2 separate regions of the Homo sapiens genome follow, and region 1 is linked to region 2. Evidence: fine-mapped expression QTL. Tissue or cell type: whole blood. Region 2 holds a variant in brackets; the other region holds the start of a gene. All regions are shown on one strand. Distances are from middle to middle. Region 1 holds the start of ERI1 (exoribonuclease 1). Region 2 overlaps LOC124901866.

What was found. PIP is the estimated chance that this variant, and not a neighbour inherited with it, causes the effect.
Region 1: ERI1 starts here. The variant in region 2 is fine-mapped to the expression of ERI1 in whole blood (TOPMed, PIP above 0.99).

What each region holds. Positions count from the first base shown.
Region 1 is chr8:8,998,829-9,008,246 of GRCh38, forward strand. It overlaps ERI1 (exoribonuclease 1), which reads left to right and starts at 4,069. Exons shown (of 7, transcript NM_153332.4): 1 at 4,069-4,343; 2 at 9,142-9,320. The coding sequence starts at 4,236. LOC105379227 (a long non-coding RNA gene) reads right to left here and starts at 3,914. Exons shown (of 3, transcript XR_002956680.2): 1 at 3,833-3,914.
Region 2 is chr8:8,969,996-8,979,424 of GRCh38, forward strand. It overlaps LOC124901866, which reads left to right. Exons shown (of 4, transcript XM_047422504.1): 3 at 9,002-9,210. Among named protein-coding and RNA genes, the nearest start is that of ERI1, 28 kb to the right of the region's middle. RefSeq lists an enhancer at 7,904-8,198. The variant G/A (reference allele first, on the strand shown) is at 3,795.

The sequences.
Region 1 (9,418 bases), 29 kb after region 2:
ATCGGCCAGGCAAGGTGGCTCATGCCTGTAATCCCAGCACTTTGGGAGGCCAAGGCGGGTAGGTCACCTGAGATCAGGAGTTTGAGAGTTTCGCTTGGCCAACATGGTGAAATCCCACCTCTACTAAAAATACAAAAATTACCCAGGTGTGGTGGCAGGCGCCTGTAATCCCAGCTACTTGGGAGGCTGAGGCATGAGAATCTCTTGAACCCAGGAGGCTGAGGTTGCAGTGAGCCAAGATAGCGCCATTGCACTCCAGCCTGGGCTACAGAGCGAGACTCTGTCTCAAAAAATAAATAAATAAATAAATAAATAAAAACATTTAGGTCTCCTGCATACTGATGTCACACAGTCATAAGAAAGTACTGAACACAGTGATATTTCTTAAACATTTTGGGTACACTCCCAGCTCAGGATCTTTTCACTTGTTTACTCTGCCTAAACTTCTCTTCTCCCATATATACTCAGTTTACTCCCTTGCCTCTTCAAGTCTTTACACAAATGGCACATCATTAGAGAGGTCTTCCCTAACGATTCTATTTAAAATTGTAACCCCCTCCATACCTGGGCACCCTCCCATTCCCTTTTCCTGTTTTACTTTTCTCCATACTATAAGCATTTTACTTATTTCTTTTGTTGATTGCCTGTCTTTCTTTTTCTTTCCTTCCCTCCCTCCCTCCTTCCCTTCCTTCCTTCCTTCTGTAGAGATGAGGTTTCACCATGTGGCCAGGTTGGTCCTGAGCTTAAGTGGTCCTCGCACCTCAGCCTGGCAAACTGCTGGGATTACAGGTGTGGGCCATCACGCCTGGCCTTACAGTAAATTCTTGATAAACAACCCAGCAACTGCCTCTTTCCTTTAAAAATTCACTTGTAGCTTCTACTGATCTGAGTATACCCAGGGCAACTTGAATCTACAATTGCAATCCTCAAACTTGGCCCAGATAAACTCTACTTATATTAATTTTGCCTCATCTTCCTTTTCGGTTATTTCATGCATGTTTCACTTTGTTCAACCTTTAATAGCTCAAACCAGAGTCTAAAGACAAAAAAAGTTACTGCACGATAGTAATTTTCATGTAGCTATTTTCATCTAGCTTGTATTTTTTTTTTTTTTTTTTTTTTACTATTTTTTGACTGACTTCGACTATTTTCACCTAGCTAGGATTTTTCAGAAGGGACATTCTTTAACTGTGTCTCACAATCCAATTTCCTCAGAGAAACTTCTTGGAGTTTCCCCAGCACAGCTGCTCATCATAGGCTTCATGGACAAAAGCCTCACTACTTATTAGAGTATCTTCTTCTGGGTCTTTTTATTTATGGCAGGTCTAATTTCTTGATGCTGCTGCACTAGTTCTAGAAGTCAAAGAAACAAAGTCAAAAGAGTTGTTTCTTGAGATAGAAGCTGAGATGGAGGTATGTATGGTTAGAAAGGGCTACTTAACCCCATCAAAGATTATTGTTATTGGAATTATGCCCTATCTCAATTGCCTATTTAACAAAGCAAATAATCTAGAATGGGCAAGACTTAAGACAATTATGATTGGTTACTAAGTGTTCACTTAACTTCCAAACTGGCATATCTTCTGAGTAGATGGATTCAGCACAACTTCAATTCTATGCTCCTGGGTTGCAATCCTCAAACTTGGACCAAATAAACTCTCTAGTTATATTAATTTTGCCTCAGCTTCTACCTTTTAGGTCAATAGTATTAAGCCTCTTCAAGTGGTCCTGAAGTATTAAGCCTCTTTAAGTGGTTACTGAAGCTGTATTCATCTTTTTTCTGTGTGTGTGTGTGTCATTTTGTATTGTTTCTGTTGCTATATCTTTGAATTTATTTACCTTTTTCTCTGCATTGCTTAATGCGCTAGCAATCCCATCCAAAGAAATTTTTATTTCAAATATTTTTCACCTCCATCCAGAAATTTGATTTTTCAAAAATCTTTCCAGTTTCTCTCCTATCATGTCTTCCTTTAAATCTTTGAGCATATTCATAACAGGTGTTTAAAATCCTTGTCTGTTAATTCCATCATTTTTATCATTTTGGGGTTTGTTTCTATGAACTTCGTGAGATATTTTCTTACCACTTGGTCTCTCTCTCTCTCTTTTGAGACAGAGTCTTACCCTGTCACCCAGGCTGGGTTGTGGTGGTGCAATCATAGGTCACTGCAGCCTCAAACTCCTGGGCTCAAGCAATCCTCCCGCCTCAGCATCCCCAAGTGCTGCGTGTCTTTCAATTTTTGACTGGATGTCTCACATTTTGAATTTAATGTTGTTGAATCCTGGATTTTACTGTAGTCTTTCAGAGAGTTTTAGAATTTGTTCTTACAGGTAATTAGGTTACTTACAGAGCAGTTTGATCCTTTCAGGGCTTGTTTTAAGGCTTTTGAAGAATCTACAGTAGTTTATGTTCTGGGTCCTGCAGTCTACGGTTATTATATCTCACTAAGGCATGACACTTTCGTAACCACCCAAAAGGTTCATCTTGCCTACTGCCTAGACAGAGTCGATTTATCAAGACAGGGGAATTGCAATAAAGAGCAATTCATGCAGAGCTGGCAGTGCAGGAGACCTGAGTTTTATTAATCAAATCAGTCTCCCTGAGCATTTGGGGATCAGAGTTTTTAAGGATAATTGGGTGGGTGAGAAGCCAGTGAGATGGGAGTGGTGACTGGTTGGGTAGGAGATGAAATCATAGGGAGTCGATGCTGTCCTCTTGCACTGAGTCAGTTCCTCCCGTGGGGGACACAAAATCAGATGAGCTAGTTTATCCAAGATCAGGTGAGTCAGTTTATCAATCTGGGAGGTGCCAGCTGATCCATCAAGTGCAGGGCCTGCAAAATATCTCAAGCACTGATCTTAGATTTTACAATAGTGATATTATCCCCAGGAGCAATTTGGAGAGGGTTAGAATCTTGTAGCCTTCAGCTGCATGAGTCCTAAATCATAATTTCTAATCTTTCGGCTAATTTACTAGTCCTACAAAAGCAGTCTAGTCTCAAGAAGAGGGTTTATTTTGAGAAAGGGCTATCACCTTTGTTTTAAACTATAAGCTATACACTAAGTTCCTCCCAGTGTTAGTTTGGCCTACGCCTAGGAATGAATAAGGATAGCCTGGAGGTTAAAAGCAAGATGGAGTTGGTTAGGTCTGATCTCTTTCACTGTCTCAATGATAATTTTGCAATGGCAGTTTCACATCTGAGGTTTCTATTGCGTGTTCCATGGTATTCAATAATCTCTTCACTCTGGTTGCTGGGAGCTCAAATGATTCCCAGTTCTGTGTGACCTCTCACCATTGTTTGGTGTACTGCTCCCCAGTAATTGTTCTTTCCTGGCCTTGTGGAGTTTCACGTTTTTTATTCAGTTAAAGATTCAAGGTACTCCTAAGCAGATTTCTGAAGCTCTTTTTCCATGTAATTCCCTCCTCTCCAGAATTCTGCCCTACAAATTCCAACCGACTTGGCCTACCCCAATTTCGTCAACTCCAATCTCTGTCTTTTCAACCCAGGAGATCCTAGGTTTCCATATGATTTCCTTTCATCGCACCACAGACTGGAAATCGCCTCTGGGCAAAAGGGCAGGATGATATACGGCTCCTTTTATTTCTTTTCTCTCAGGTAAAACAGTCCACAGCTGTCCGTTGTCCAATGTCTGAATAGGTGTCTCCTATATTTTGTTCCGTTTTCTAATTGTTTATAGTGGGACACTAAGTCCCGACCCATTTTCTTTTCTTGCCCAGAGTGGAAGTTTTAGGAAACTCCTTATGGAAAATGTGAATTGTTTTATTATTTTTTATGGTCGAAAACATCTTTCTCTATGATATCTTCCCACTCACCCTACTTTTTTCCTTCTCAGGAAACACTGACGGGAACACACGTGCCGGTGCTACCCTCCAGTGACTGGACTAGATCCTTGCGCAACTTCAACCCGCGCTAGCTCCGCCTACGGCCGGCCACGCCCCGTCTTCTCACCGGCGCGCCTCCCTCTTGTTCGTCCTCCCTCCCCCTGTGGACTGCGGCGCTGGCGTTCCGCGCACGCCGGCTCACTGCGCCTGCCCGGCGTGTGGACGCCACACGCTCCCGGAAGTGGGAGGTGGCCGCTGGAGTTTGTGTGGCCGCCGCCGCGGGAACGCGAGCCCGGTAATTTTTCAACGGAGAAAGGCGAGGCTTTCGGGCTCTGCAGAGTGAGAGTTAGCAAGTGTCCGGCTCCAGCAACTCTCCTCTGGCGTGACAGCCGGCATGGAGGATCCACAGAGTAAAGAGCCTGCCGGCGAGGCCGTGGCTCTCGCGCTGCTGGAGTCGCCGCGGCCGGAGGGCGGGGAGGAGCCGCCGCGTCCCAGTCCCGAGGTGAGGAGTCGACCCGCGCCTGGCTGTTGGCGCCAGCTGCCCCGTCCCCAAAGCGCCCTCGGCACCCCTTTCTTCTCAGGTGTCCCGCAGAAGGTGCAGCTGTGCGCCCTTGGACCCCAGCCTCTTCCTCGGTGCCCAGCTCCCTGGCTTTATCCTCGGGTGGGTGTCTTGGAGCCCCCTCAGGGCCGAATCACTCTCTGGGAGGGAGGAAATCGTCAAGACCAGTTCTGTCTACAGTGGGTTAACAGGTTCTAAGAGGGAGTTTTGCTTTAAACTTAATTCTGTGTTCACGGTTGCTGTTGTCACTCCATGTAGCCGTTATGGGTAGTTTGCAAGGCTTTATGTTTTTAAAATCTCACCATATACGCTAGGTATGTCACTTCATGCCTGTTTTTAAAAAAAGAAAAAATTTAAAAAGCACTCACCAGCATCCCTGTCTCTGTACCTGTTAAGTGGAGCTTCGTCTTAGCTGCTTTTGCTCATTAACTGGTGTCTCATATAACCATAGTATAAGATTGAATGAATCATTTTGACATCTCATCGGTTGAACTTAGTTACAGTGGCAAAGTTGTAGAACAGTCTTAAAACTTATTTAACGAATGTTAATTGTTGACTAGCGCTGCGGATTGTAAGTGATTGAATACTAAAATTGATCTTTTCCTAATAATAAACATGTTGAACACTTCGTAAAGCTTCATAAAGTGCGTATTTGCAAGAGGCCTCCTAACTCTTGCTCCTTCCGTCCACAGTCAGTTTCCATCTGGCAGCTAGAATGAGCTTTTCAATAACATGAATTTGGCTTATTCCCCTCCTGAGTCACTTCCATTTGCTGCTCTGCGGGGTCGGGTGCCTGCCTCCCTTGGTAATTGCATCTCACACAGTTTTTTCCCTTTTGTTCCCAGTGCCCCTCGCTGCCTTGTGTTCTTTGACATTGGAAAGAAGGTCTCGTTAAGGATCTCTGTATGTTCCTTTTGCCCTGTGTGCACTTCCTTTGGATCCTTGCAATTATCTTTCTCCTTCTAAGGTTGTTATTTCAAAGAGTACTTGCACATCCCTTCTCTTGTAAAGAACCACTCTTCCACCTGCCTCCCTCTTCAGCCTGAGATACGTTGTCAATCTCATCCTGTAAGTGGGTTTTAAAATAAATTTCGAAGTTTATTTTTAGTAAAAGAAGTGTGTTTGAATATGCTTCTTTATATTTGAAAGTCTTGACACTTTTACAGCTACTTAAGGCCTAGGTCTCTGTTCCAAATTGGCTTTAGTGACGGTAGTAATTGTTAAAAACTTACTGTTGCATGCTCTTTATAGTGATACTTTTTTTTTTTTTTTTTTTTTTTTTTACAAAAAGCCGGTCGTAGTTGCCCTCTCCCGTAGTCCCAGCTACTGGGGAGGCTCAGTGGGGAGGATCACCTGAGCCCATGGGTGGAGGCTGCAGTGAGCTGTGATCGTGCCACTGCACTCCAACCTGGGTGACAGAGTGAGACCCTGTCTCAAAAAATAATAGTAATGATACTTTTTTTTTTTTTTTTTTGGAGACGGAGTTTCGTTCTTGTTGCCCAGTCTGGAGTGCAATGGCATGGTCTCAGCTTACTGCAACCTCCCGCCTCCCGGATTCAAGTGATTCTCGTGCCTCAGCCTCCCTAGTAGCTGGGATTACAGGAACCCACCACCACGCTTGGCTAGTTTTTGTATTTTTAGTAGAGATGGGGTTTCACCATGTTGGCCATGCTGGTCTGGAACTCCTGACCTCAGGTGATCCGCCCACCTCGGCCTCCCAAAGTGCTGGGATTACAGGCAATGAGCCACTGCGCCTGGCCATGATACAGTGTTTTTCAATCTGGGCCAAAGTTTTTTGTTGAATTCAGGTGGTAAATTTCCATTATCTCTAATGCTAGTTGTCTTTGTAAACTAGTAGAAGCTATTGCATATTTATATTTTTAATAAGTAGGTTCAGATTTCATCAGAACTCTCCTTTTGGAAGAACGTCAATCAAGAAAAATTCTAAGTTTTTTTTCAGTGTGCAGATGCAGAGGTTTTCCTTTTCTTTTTTTAAAAGGTAGTACCTAGATTTTTGGCAGCAGAATAATAGCATTTCCAGAACATGTTTTCAAAATGTTCTCTATACAGAAAAAGTTTTATTTGACAAGCAGTTACTTTGTAGCTTACTGTTAAAATGTGTTTTCTTTTTTCTTGCAACAACAGATTGTGTTCCTTTAAAAAAATGCTAAAAATCAAGCTCCGGTACCCTTCCCAATAAGAAGAGGACAGCAATTATAGAATACCTGTCTTTTTGTAAAAGAAAATTTGTAACTCATCTTTAAGTTCAACAACAGTTTTTTTATGTTTTTTTTTTTTTTTTTTGAGAGGGAGTCTCTCTCTGTTGCCCAGGCTGGAGTGCAGCGGCTCAGTCTCGGCTCGCTGCAAGCTCCGCCTCACGGGTTCACGCCATTCTCCTGCCTCAGCCTCCTGAGTAGCTGGGACTACAGGCGCCCGCCCGGCTAATTTTTTGTATTTTTAGTAGAGACGGGGTTTCACCGTGGTCTCTATCTCCTGACCTCGTTATCCGCCCGCCTCGGCCTCCCAAAGTGCTGGGATTACAGGCGTGAGCCAACGCGCCCGGCCTCAACGACAGTTTTAAAGTAGTTTGCCACAAGATAGTAAACCTCTGTTTGGTATAGAAGATTTTCATGGCCACATCCCATAATGTAAAAGCTTCTCTTATTTGAGATAATATAAACCATACATCCACTTAATTGAATACGTGAATATTGCAAAATGTTACAGTTCTGTGATGGTGAATGTTTCTCTCCATATTGTGGAATCTATCACTTTTCTCATTATATGGTCCGTATTATATGTGACATGTGATAGGTGGATGTAGTTACTGGTACGGATGCTGATGCAAATGTAAGTATGTATTTCGTAAACTAATTTTGTCTTTCTGCAGATTAACAATACAAGTAGGGTTTTTAGTATTTTCTTTCTGCTCCTTGGCAGATTGATTTGAGCATCCTTCTTTGTGAACCATTAGTGTAGATTTGAAATTTGGGAGGAGACACTGCTTTCTGAGGATTGGACCTCGGCTGTCTCTAGAACTTCACTGAAGGAAGAGAACTAGAGCTGGACCTAGGAAAGGAAGCAAATTTTTCTTTATGGAAGTCATAATTTATAGCATCTATAGAAGAGGCCTAAGTGTTACTTGTGAATAATTTTTCTAGCTACAGTTTAGGATGAGAATTAACCAGTGAATCAGAAAGAGGATTTATCCAAAGAGAAAATCTGCTTAAATTAACTGAGACATCTGTTTTGGTAGACAAACTGTTACTTAATGTTGACCTAAATTTTAACCTGAAATTTACTAAATGATGACTAAAGATGAAGTTTCAAATTCAATGTAAATTTAAAGTCAAAAGATAATTTTTTGTAAAATTCTGGTCAAGCAGAGCAATATCTATTGTAAATCTAATATATTGTTGAAAGTGAATCATTGGTCAACTAGCAATACTTTTTTTTTCCTTAACATTGTTAACAAGGAACCTCAGTGTGGCTGTTCTTTAATTTATGGACAGTTCACACATTGGAACTGCTGACCTCTTCCTCAAAGGAAATGGGTGAGTCACTCTTGAGTACTCTGGCACCTTACCTAGCATTACATTTCCAGTAAATGTGTGTTGCATTAAATTGAGAGCTTAGAGTAAGAAATGGTTCCTGAACCATCAGGATCAGTTCTGAGTTAGGGACTGTGGCCTCTCTGTGATTATCCTTCCTTGATCTATAATTACAGTTTACGTGAGGACAATGTGGTACATTATAACTAAGGTAACAAGCTTTAATAGGGATAATTAGTACTAAATATTTTTCAAAATTATGGAACATAGCTAATATTTGTGATATTGCATGTGGAAAATAACTTACAAATGAATCTTTGGAACTTAACATATTAGTAATTTGAGACTGCCTGTGGAGAAAATAGAATTGAGTCATGTTTTTTCTTAACAGATTTTTATTTATGAAAAAATTCATAATTCTATAGTTCTTCTGGTTAGTGGACCTAAGTACAACTTTTGGAAAATGTAAGTTTTGAAATTAAATACATTTCCTTCTTTGAGTACTAGGAAGCTGTAAATTAGATTTGCGGTCCATTTTGTTTTTATGTTGGGCAATTTTTGTTAACTTTGTGAAATGAAGTCAGGTTAAAAAATTATCAGAAGTTATTACACATGTATAATGTAAAAGTTCATTTAAAAATGGGTTCATTTGTAAATATTAGCATATTGTTTGTGAAGGGCTTGTTGTATAGCCTGTGATATTAATAGTTACCATTTATTAATAGCTACTGTGGGTGTAGGGGTCTGATACACATAATCTCATTTAATCTTTGTAATAATTCTGCCCAAACACTATTTACCATTACCAAATTACCATTTTATAGATAAGGAAATTGAGGATCAGAGGCTAATACGTAGCTATCCAAAGTCATGCTGCTATTTCTAGTAAATAGTCAGCTGGGGTTCTCTATTGAGGTGGTGTTGACTCCCACCACCAGTCTTCTTTTTACTTAGCTTTGTTTCCTTTGAGGAACCTCATGACTCATAATAGAGTGGGGTAAATTGTATTGGAGACGCATCTTCCTTCTTATCCTTTCCTCCGTTTAGGAGCTGCAGTGAACACTTTTCATTGAACATGTAGCATGAAGAGGCTTCAGAAGTTTGAAAGTTTGAATCTTTAAATCTGTGATGTTTGTACTAATTATAAACTACATCCTTTTTTTTTTTTTTTTTTTTTTTTTTTTTGGTAGGAAACTCAACAGTGTAAATTTGATGGCCAGGAGACAAAAGGATCCAAGTTCATTACCTCCAGTGCGAGTGACTTCAGTGACCCGGTTTACAAAGAGATTGCCATTACGAATGGCTGTATTAATAGAATGAGTAAGGAAGAACTCAGAGCTAAGCTTTCAGAATTCAAGCTTGAAACTAGGTAATTAAAAATAACTTATAAAATTATAAAAGTAGTACATGCTCATTTTAGAAAATCTTGAAAACATTGAAATATTAAAAATCATCTGTAATCCTACC
Region 2 (9,429 bases):
GCTCACAATCAGTGTGATTGGTTACGGACAGTAACCGATCAGAGGCTGAAGTGAAGTTACAAAGGTCACACTCCTATGCACACATCTGATTGGTCTCGCAAAGCTAACAATCAGAGGGTAAAGCGAAGTTACAAAGTTGCTCTTCTATGCAAACCAAGACTTGGCTGGCAATCAGAGATTGGTCTTGGAAAGCTAACAGTCAGAGGCTAAAGTAAAGTTTCAAAGTTACACTCCTATGCAAACGTCTGATTGGTTGCAATCAGAGGTACTTTCAATTTCCCATCTGCCCGAGCAGAAAAGACGGGTTTGCAAAGGGAGTAGCCTCTGGTCCTTGTCACTTAGGTGTGGAAAGTTAGGGTTTTCCTTCCAGGGCCTATTGTTCTACCTCAGGAAGACTGATTGAGCTAAAGAGCGAGGCTGCTTTGAGCCATGATCACGCCACTGCACTCAAGCCTGGGTGACAAAGCAAGACCCTGCCTAGCAAAAAAAAAGAAAAAGAAAAAGATATAACTCTTTCTCCAACAGGAACATTATGAATTTTATTCACTGACTTGAGATTTGAGTCCAAGAAGGAAGGTGAAGTTGCTGAAAAACCAGACTCACTTAAAAGTCAAAAGCCGAGCCAGGCATAGTGGCTCACACCTGTAATCCCAGCATTGTGGGAGGCCAAAGTAGTTGGATCACCTGAGGTCAGGAGTTCAAGACCAGCCTGGCCAACATGGTGAAAACGCGTCTCTACTAAAAATACAAAAATTAGCCTGTCATGGTGACAGGTGCCTGTAATCCCAACTACTTGGAAGTCTGAGAATTGCTTGAACCCGAGAGGTGGAGGTTGCAGTGAGCTGAGATCACACCATTTCACTCCAGCCTGGGTGACAAGAATGAAACTCCGTCTAAAAAAAAAAAAGAAAAAAGAAACAAAAAAGTCTAAAGCTGGTAAACTAATCCCAATGAGAAGCTTGGCATTGAAATGATGAGTTTATTCACAGAGAAAAAGAGCAAAGTCTCCAAAAGTTTTCTAGGCATTTTATAACTGAGCTGGCCCCAAGTGCAGGTGCAGGAGCTCTTAGAAGCTCAGCCACGGGGAATAACACTGCAGGAAATACATGTCCAGGGATGAGCTGAATGAAATGGGTGGGATGGGATCCAGTATCCCATCTCTTCAACTTCGAACAGCTGCCCGCCTGTAGAAACCGTTGCAAGCTAGCTTGAGGACAGTATCCCTTCTGCAGGGCTGCATGCCGTTTGCTTGTCTGGCAATCCCATAACTCATAGGCAGATGCTGTATGCCATATACCAAATAGCAAAGTGGAGATGTGCAGGGTAGGAAAACTGGATTGCGAGGAAGGAGATGAGGCAATCATTCTCAACCTTGGCTGCACGACAGAATCTCTCGGGAAGACTTTATAAAATATGAATGCCAGGGCCCATTCCTATGGTGTTCTTTTTTTCTTGATAAATGTTAGCAATGGTTTTATTAGTCTTATGTCCTTGCTTTTGTGTACTATCTGTCCCCAGGGAGATTATTTTTGAGAATTACCCCTAAATTTTCATTGTTTTCTCCCTTCAAATTCAGTGCTTGTGAGACACATTATGAAAAAGAGAAGCGACTCCGCGTTTGTTTAATGCATTGCTTCCTCCACTTAACCTCTTGCTTATTGGAGCTAAAAGCAGATTCTGTAGTCCTTATCCCCTAGTGGCTCTAATCCCCACTCTCCTAACCAGGAATTTACCATTGTAGTTTCAATGCAATGGCCGTTTCATTTTCTTTTTCCATCCTAATCCAGTAGTTAGCTTAACTTGCTCTACAGTGAAATACACGCATGGTATTCTGACTTAATTGACCGAGTGCATGACCCTGGCATCAAAAATTTTTAAAGGCTGATAAGGTGATTCTAATGTGCATTTGGGGTGGAGAATACCAATCTGGCAGCTGGAAACAAAAGAAGAGTGAACATTTTCCCACTGGGCGCTTCCAGAAAGTAATTAAATACATATAAGTGCTGGGAAAAAAGGAGGCTAAGTCCTGAGATATTAACTAGTTATATGATGTTGAGCTGGCTATCTTATCTAAGACTCAGTGTCATCTTTAAAAGGAGGGAAACTATAGCACCAGCCATATACAGGTGTGAAGATTAAATGAGCTAGTATGTGTAAATCACTTAGCATGGTGCTTGACAGTGCCCAACAGACAGGCCCAAGGCATAGTGGCTCATGCATGTGGTCCCAGCGCTTTGGGAAGCTGAGGCAGTAGGTTCGTTTGAGCCCAGGAGGTTGAGGCTGCAGTGAGCCATGATCGTGCCACTGCATTCCAGCCTGGGAGACAGAGAGAGACTGCATCCCCCCCAAAAAAAAAAAAAAAACAGTTGGCTGGGCACGGTGGTTCATGCCTGTAATCCCAGCATTTTGGGAGGCCGAGGTGGGCGGATCACCAAGGTCAAGAGTTCAAGACCGGCCTGACCAACATGGCAAAACCCCGCCTCTACTAAAAATACAAAAATTAGGCTGGGCACTATGGCTCATGCCTGTAATCTCAGTACTTTGGGAGGCCAAGGCGGGTGGATCACAAGGTCAGGAGATCAAGATCGTCCTTGCCAACATGGTGAAATCCCATCTCTACTAAAAATACAAAAATTAGCCATGCGTGGCTGTGCACACCTGTAGTCCCAGCTACTTGGGAGACTGAGGCAGGAGAATTGCTTGAACTCGGGAGGTAGAGGTTGCAGTGAGCCAAGATTATGCCACTGCACTCCGGCCTGGGCGACAGAGCAATACTCCTTCTCAAAAACAAACAAACAAAGTGCCCAGTAAATGACTGGTGTTTCGTCATCATCCTCATTGTCATTTTAGAGAATAAAAACATTGGATTAGAAGTTTATATACAACATATTTGCCTCCATAAATAAGTGCAAATTCTGAAATTCAAAGCAAAAAATTTTTTAAAAATCATTTTATATTTGCTGAGAGCTTTTCCTTTGAACATAGATTGGGGGAGGCAGTTTCATGGATTTCCATGTTCATAACTGGATCTGTCCCCAGTCTTTTTCTGGCATTCCCAGCCTTGAACCGCGTCTTGTTAATCCTCCTCCACAAAAGCCCATACTAGCTTTTATTTATTTTCTCTCAGAATATTCCATGTCTATAATTTCTGTTGATTTATGCTCTATAAATACTAATTCCAGACTTGTGTAGCCAGCACTTTCTGGCCCCAAGCGCTCCACAAAATGGACTCAGATTGTCTTCTTGTATAACGCACAGTCTACCAGTTTGGTGAAAGGTGATAAAGTGATCTGTGGAGCTCAGATGGAAAGAAGCGTCTGGGAGAGCCAGGCTCCTAATCACTTAAATCCTTTCCAAACGTGGGGAGGGGGGTGGTGCGAGGGAGAATGAGAGCAGACAAAGCTGGCTGTCATTGCTATGATTAGGCTTTCGCTCTAAGCCTCCAGAGAGTTGTGAGCTGGGGTAAATGATGTGAAGGATTCATTTCGCCTGGATAGAGATAGGCTCAAGGAGCTGCACCAGTAAAAGTGGGATGAACGGCGTCTTAGACTCCCTTTCCTCTAAGCCCAGCGCAAGCCACAGCCTCGTGAACAGCTCAATGTAATAAGACAAATCCAAGGAAAAAGAAGGAATACGCTTCCTCCTGAGAGCTAGATTGGAGTGTCTCTAATCCCCTCAAACTGTTATCTGTCAGGAATCTTATTTGTGAGCAACAGAATCCAACTCCAATAACTTTGGAAGGAAGAAATTTAGCAGAAGGCTATTCAGGAGCTCCGGCTCGTGCTGAGCAGATG[G/A]GAGAAGCAGGCTTAAAGTCAAAGCTTTGGTGGCAGGCAGGAGCAGAAGTCAGTCAGTGAGGACACCAGTGCAGTGGGCATTGGACACAAGACCACAATGCTCACCATGGCTGATGCTGGCACGAGATAGTGGTTGCTGATGCAGGCATCGCTACCTCTGCACTTGGGAACTTGCCAGTACTCCCCCATCTGCCACCAACCACCTATCCGTGGTTTCGCCACCACCCACCTATCCGTGGTTTCTCCACCACCCTGCTTCCTGGGATGCAGCAACCCCCAAACAGATGCAGTTTTGGGCCAGCGTTATGGAAGAGAAAGCAAATCCCCCAAATGTCTGAATCACAAACACAGAGACCTCACCCCCGTGACAGTGGAAACAAATGCCCTGGCCTCTGACCCCTACAGATCCGCGTTCCTGCCCCTAAACGGTGCAGTGAGGGGAGAGCTGGGCTGCAGAACAGGTGGAGAGAAGAACGTGGTGTGTCCCCTAGGGGTCAGTGCTAGGACATATTGTCTCCAGGGTCTCGTGCCTTTCTGTTTGGTTGAGGGCAACATTTCTCAGAAGTATGTGGATACCTGGGATTTTAAGAGGGTATCATGGCAACTCTTTCACTCTCTAGTTTTAGAGGTGATCTTGACAAATGTCTCTCACCTGAGAGCCTTTGAGTATGTACCAACTAACCATATGGAGCAATTGGGGGATCAGATAAAAAGGCTGATGACACGGTCACTCTATTGAGTTAGCACCAGCTGAGCACAACAGCCCACCATGTTGTCTCTGACTACCATGGAGCATGGCAGGCTGCTTGTTGTCACCCCACATCCATTTTCCCCTTCTTCATTAGAAAATGGTGAGCCAGCTAAAAATTGTATTTCCCAGTCTTCTTCTTCTCCTCCTCCTCCTTCTTTTCCTCCCTCCTCCCTCCTCCCTTTCCCCTTCACCTCCCCTCCCCCTTCACCCTCCCCAACCCCTTCTCTTCCCCCTTGTTCTCCTTCTCCCCCTCCTTCTCCTTCTCCTTCTTCTGACAGGGTCTTGCTTTTTCACCCAAGCTAGAGTGCAGTGGTGCAATCATGGCTCACTGAAGCCTCAACCTACTGGCTTAAACGATCCCTCCACATCAGCCTCCCAAGCAGCTGGGACTACAGGCACACACCACCACGCCTGGCTGGTTGTTAGATTTTTTTGCAGATATGTGGTTTTTGCCCGAGCTGGTCTTGAACTCCTGTTCTCAAGTGATCGTCCCACCTCAGGCATCCAAAGTGCTGTGAATATAGGTATGAGCCATCACACCCTGCCTACCCCAGCCTTTTTTACAGCTAGGTGTGGCCATCCAGCTAAGTTTTCATCAGTGAATTGTGAGAGGAAATAATGCACGAAATTTTGATTTCAGCCGGGCTCAGTGGCTCACGCCTATGATCCCAACACTTTGGGAGGCTGAAGCTGGCAGGTGGATCACTTGAGCTCAAGACTTCAAGATCAGTCTGTCCAACATGGTGAAACCCCATCTCTACTACAAATACAAAAATTAGCCAGGCGTGGTGGCACACGCCTGTAATCCCAGCTACTGGGGAGGCTGAGGCAGGAGATTCACTTGAACCCGGGAGGTGGAGGTGGCAGTGAGCCGAGATCACTCTACTGCACTCCAGCCTGGGCAACAAAGTGAGACTCCATCTCAAAAAAAAAAAAAATTCTTTTTTGGTCTTACTTCCTTAAAACACTCCCCAAAACTTGGCCTTTACTTCCCCCCAAATTGTTACAGATTTTCATTTTTTCCCTTTCTTGAATCAGAAAATAGCTATGTTTGCTGCTTGACTTTGATTATGTAGATTAATTCATAGCCCTAGGTCAGTTTTTTTGTTTTGTTTTTTTGTTATTTTTTTTTTTTTTTAGATGGAGTCTCGCTCTTTCACCCAGGCTGGAGTGCAGTGATTTGATCTCAGCTCACCGCAACCTCCACCTCCTGGGTTCAAGAGATTCTCCTGCCTCAGCTTCCCAAGTAGGTGGGATTATAGGCTCGCACCACCACGGCCAGCTAATTTTTGTATTTTTAGTAGAGACAGGGTTTTGCCACATTGGCCAGGATGGCCTCAAACTCCCGACCTCAAGTGATCTGCCTGCCTCAGCCTTCCAAAGTGCTGGGATTACAGGCATGAGCCACCGTGCCCAGCCCAGGAGCTGTTAATCAGGGTTTTATGAATACTCAAGGAATTTGGGGATATAAACCATGTGGGTTAATGAAGTTAAATCAGGGAAAAAAAGTCTTCATTTCAATTTAACTCTAACTGAAATTGTGTTTTTCAATTATGAATACAGGAAAGTAACCACAGTATTAAGAGTACAGGTAACTTTGTGACCAATAGAAAGGTATTTTTATTTCACATTTCAGCTGAAGATATCTCAAAATATTATTTGTGCTCTTCACCAGTTTGAAATTGTGATACGAGACAATTTGACCCTACTAGATCTTTCTATTTAATGTATTAATAAAGAAGCAAATATATTAGTAATTCACACATTTGCTTTATAAGCATTGTGATGAATATATTTCAATATAATTGCTATCTTTTATAATCCTATACATTTTCTTTTATATCTTTGAAAAAATTATTCTGAGGCTAGGCATGGTGGCTCTCACCTGTAATCCAAGCACTATGGGAGGCCGACATGGGAGGATGACTTGAGGCCAGGAGTTTGAGACCAGCCTGGTCAACATAGCAAGACCTTATCTGTATTAAATAATAATAATAATGATAAAAAGAAAAAAATTATTCTGAGATAGTCCATAAGCTTCACCAGACTGTCAAAGGGGACCTTGTCACAAAAAACTTAAGAAGCAACATGGTTTCTTTTTTCTAGTCATTCTGTCTCATGGGATGGCAGAACAACTGGCTCTCAGAATACATGCGGAACAGATCTCACCCTCAATGAAACCACTCACCTACAGACGTTAAATAAGAGAGAAATAAACCTTATGATCTTTAAGCCATGCATTTTATGGTATTTTTGTTATAGAAGCTTAAAAAATACTCCAACCATACATATAAAGTTATTTTATTCTCACTTTCTTGTTTTAAAATTCATATCAACATCATTCGTTAAAGGTAAGAAGCATACAGATGTCAAAATCCAACAACTTGCTGAGGATTATTAAAATGATAATAATTATGCAAATTTATTTCAAGGAGATATTTGCAGTTTGTATGTTGTATTCATCTCAACAAAAGTGTTATTTAGCACAACAAAATACTTCTTGTACTTCAAAATATATTAAGAGAGAAAATATGGTGCCTATTAAATTTAATTTGACTTCTTATTTATCAAAAGTAAACATTAGCACCTGAAATACGTTGTTTGCACAGAAATACCTGTATTTAGAAGCTTGAAATATTTCCTCTGAATTGATAACTTAGAAACAAAACATGGAAATTATAGTAAGTGAATTTCCTATTTAATGTGCTAAAGGCAATCTGTTTATACAGTAGTATGCAATTTTAAATTTTAAACCAGTTTTTAATATATGTTTGATCCTAAGGCTAAATATCATATATATTCTTCTTGAATTAATTTGTTTATAAAGCATGTTTTTGCTACTTAATTAATTAATTAATTATTCTGGATGGACTGTCACTGTTAGCTGGAGTGCAGTGGCGCCATCTCGGCTCACCGCAACTTCCACCTCCCGGGTTCAAGTGATCATGCCTCAGCCTCCTGAGTAGCTGGGATTACAGGCATGTGCCACCATGCTTGGCTAATTTTTGTATTTTTAGTAGAGATGGGGTTTTGCCATGTTGGCCAGGCTGGTATTGAACTCCCGACCTCAAATGATCCACCTGCCTCAGCCTCCCAAAGTGCTGGGATTACAGGCATAAGCCACTGTGCCCAACCTGATTTAAATGAATAGTATGTATCAATTGTTAAGTGGGAAAAAAACTAAATGTTTCTATATATTTTAAATATTACTACACATTATATAAAAGTGAACTCATATGCTAATTGAAAATACACTTTATACTTGAAATTACTTAATATTGTATGCCCTGCAAAGTTGATAGAATTTTTTTTAGTTGTCTTTTTGCATCCCTTGGCTATGCTATAATGCGGCTTTGAGGATCAAATAAGGAGCTTGAGAGCATTGAAAGTACCACCAAGTTGAGAGGGGGAAGACCTCATATGCAGGAGAGGATTAACTTTGCCCATACAGGGGTCTGGCCTTTGCCCTCAGCTCCTGGAAGATAATCTCTAAACCACTGGAATATCCTGCTTGATAAGAATGTTTACCTGAGGACTTTGGAACAAGCTCCATAACCTATGCTAACAATGTAATCGATAATGCAGGCTTTGGGCCACACAGCTCCAGCTCAGCCTCCGGAAGGGCTGGAAACTGACCATGTCGATGTGACAGAACCCCAGTAAAAACTGTGGACATTGAGGCTCAGGTGAGCTTCTCTGGGTGGCAATTCATGCATATCCTCACACATCACTGCTGAGTTAGTTCTCCACTGGGAAAGAACAACTGGAAGCTTTGCACGTGGAGCTCTCCTGGACTCTTCCCCATATGCCTCTTCCCTCAGTTTATTTATTTATTTAGAGACAGAGTTTCACTCTTGTCGCCCAGGCTGGAGTGCAGTGGCGCAATCTCAGCTCACTGTAACCTCTGCCTCCCAGGTTCAAGCAATTCTCCTGCCTCAGCCTCCCAAGTAGCTAGAATTACAAGCATGTGCCACCACCAGCACACCTGGCTAATTTTTTTGTGTTTTTGTAGAGATGAAGTTTCACCATTTTGGCCAGGCTGGTCTCGAACTCCTGACCTCAGGTGATCTGCCTGCCTTGGCCTCCCAAAGTGCTGGGATTACAGGTGTGAGCCACCACGCCCCGCCCCCTCAGCTGATTTAAATTTGCATTCTTTCACTGTGATAAGCCACAACTGTGAGTATAACAGCTTTCAGTGAGTTCTGTGAGTCCTTCCAACAGATTGTCAAATCTGTGGGTGGTCTTGAGGATCCCTGAACTTGCAGTTAGTATCTGAAGTGAAAGTGGCCTTGGGGCCTCCTGAACTTCACGCCTGGCTTCTAGTCCTGACTGCCCCTAACTCTAGTTATCAACAAATCTCCATTTGCCTCCAAGCCACAGTGTCTGCTGGTTCTCTGCCAAACTCCCACCCTTCTCTGCCTTCCTTTGTGTCATTGCCTATGTTCCCTAACTCCAGGGGAAGATGAGCAGGTGCGAGACAGGGAGAAGCCATCCTACTTCTGGCTCCAGCGGCAGCGGTACCAGTGACTGTATACAACAGGGGGCCCGAGAAGCATCTGAGGCTCCAGCGGAGACACAGGATTGGCTTCCGCTCCCCAGCAGTGGGGACGTCTCCAGACATTCAGCAGCTCCAGCCCGGGGACTGCTGCAGCTTCTACCCTCTGGGTAACACCCCTCTTCTCTCTTTTGCTCTTCTAGCATACCCCACACCTTTGTCAACATCCCCTGAATTAATTCTCTCTCTGCGTTCAGTTTTCCTGAAAGGGGAAATCCCCCTTTTCTGTATAAGGGGAATAATAATAATTGTATCTGTTCTCTGTATCACTCAGAGCTGTTGTGAGCATCCACTGCTAATGGTTGATTGGTTGCTTTAAGGTTAATAAA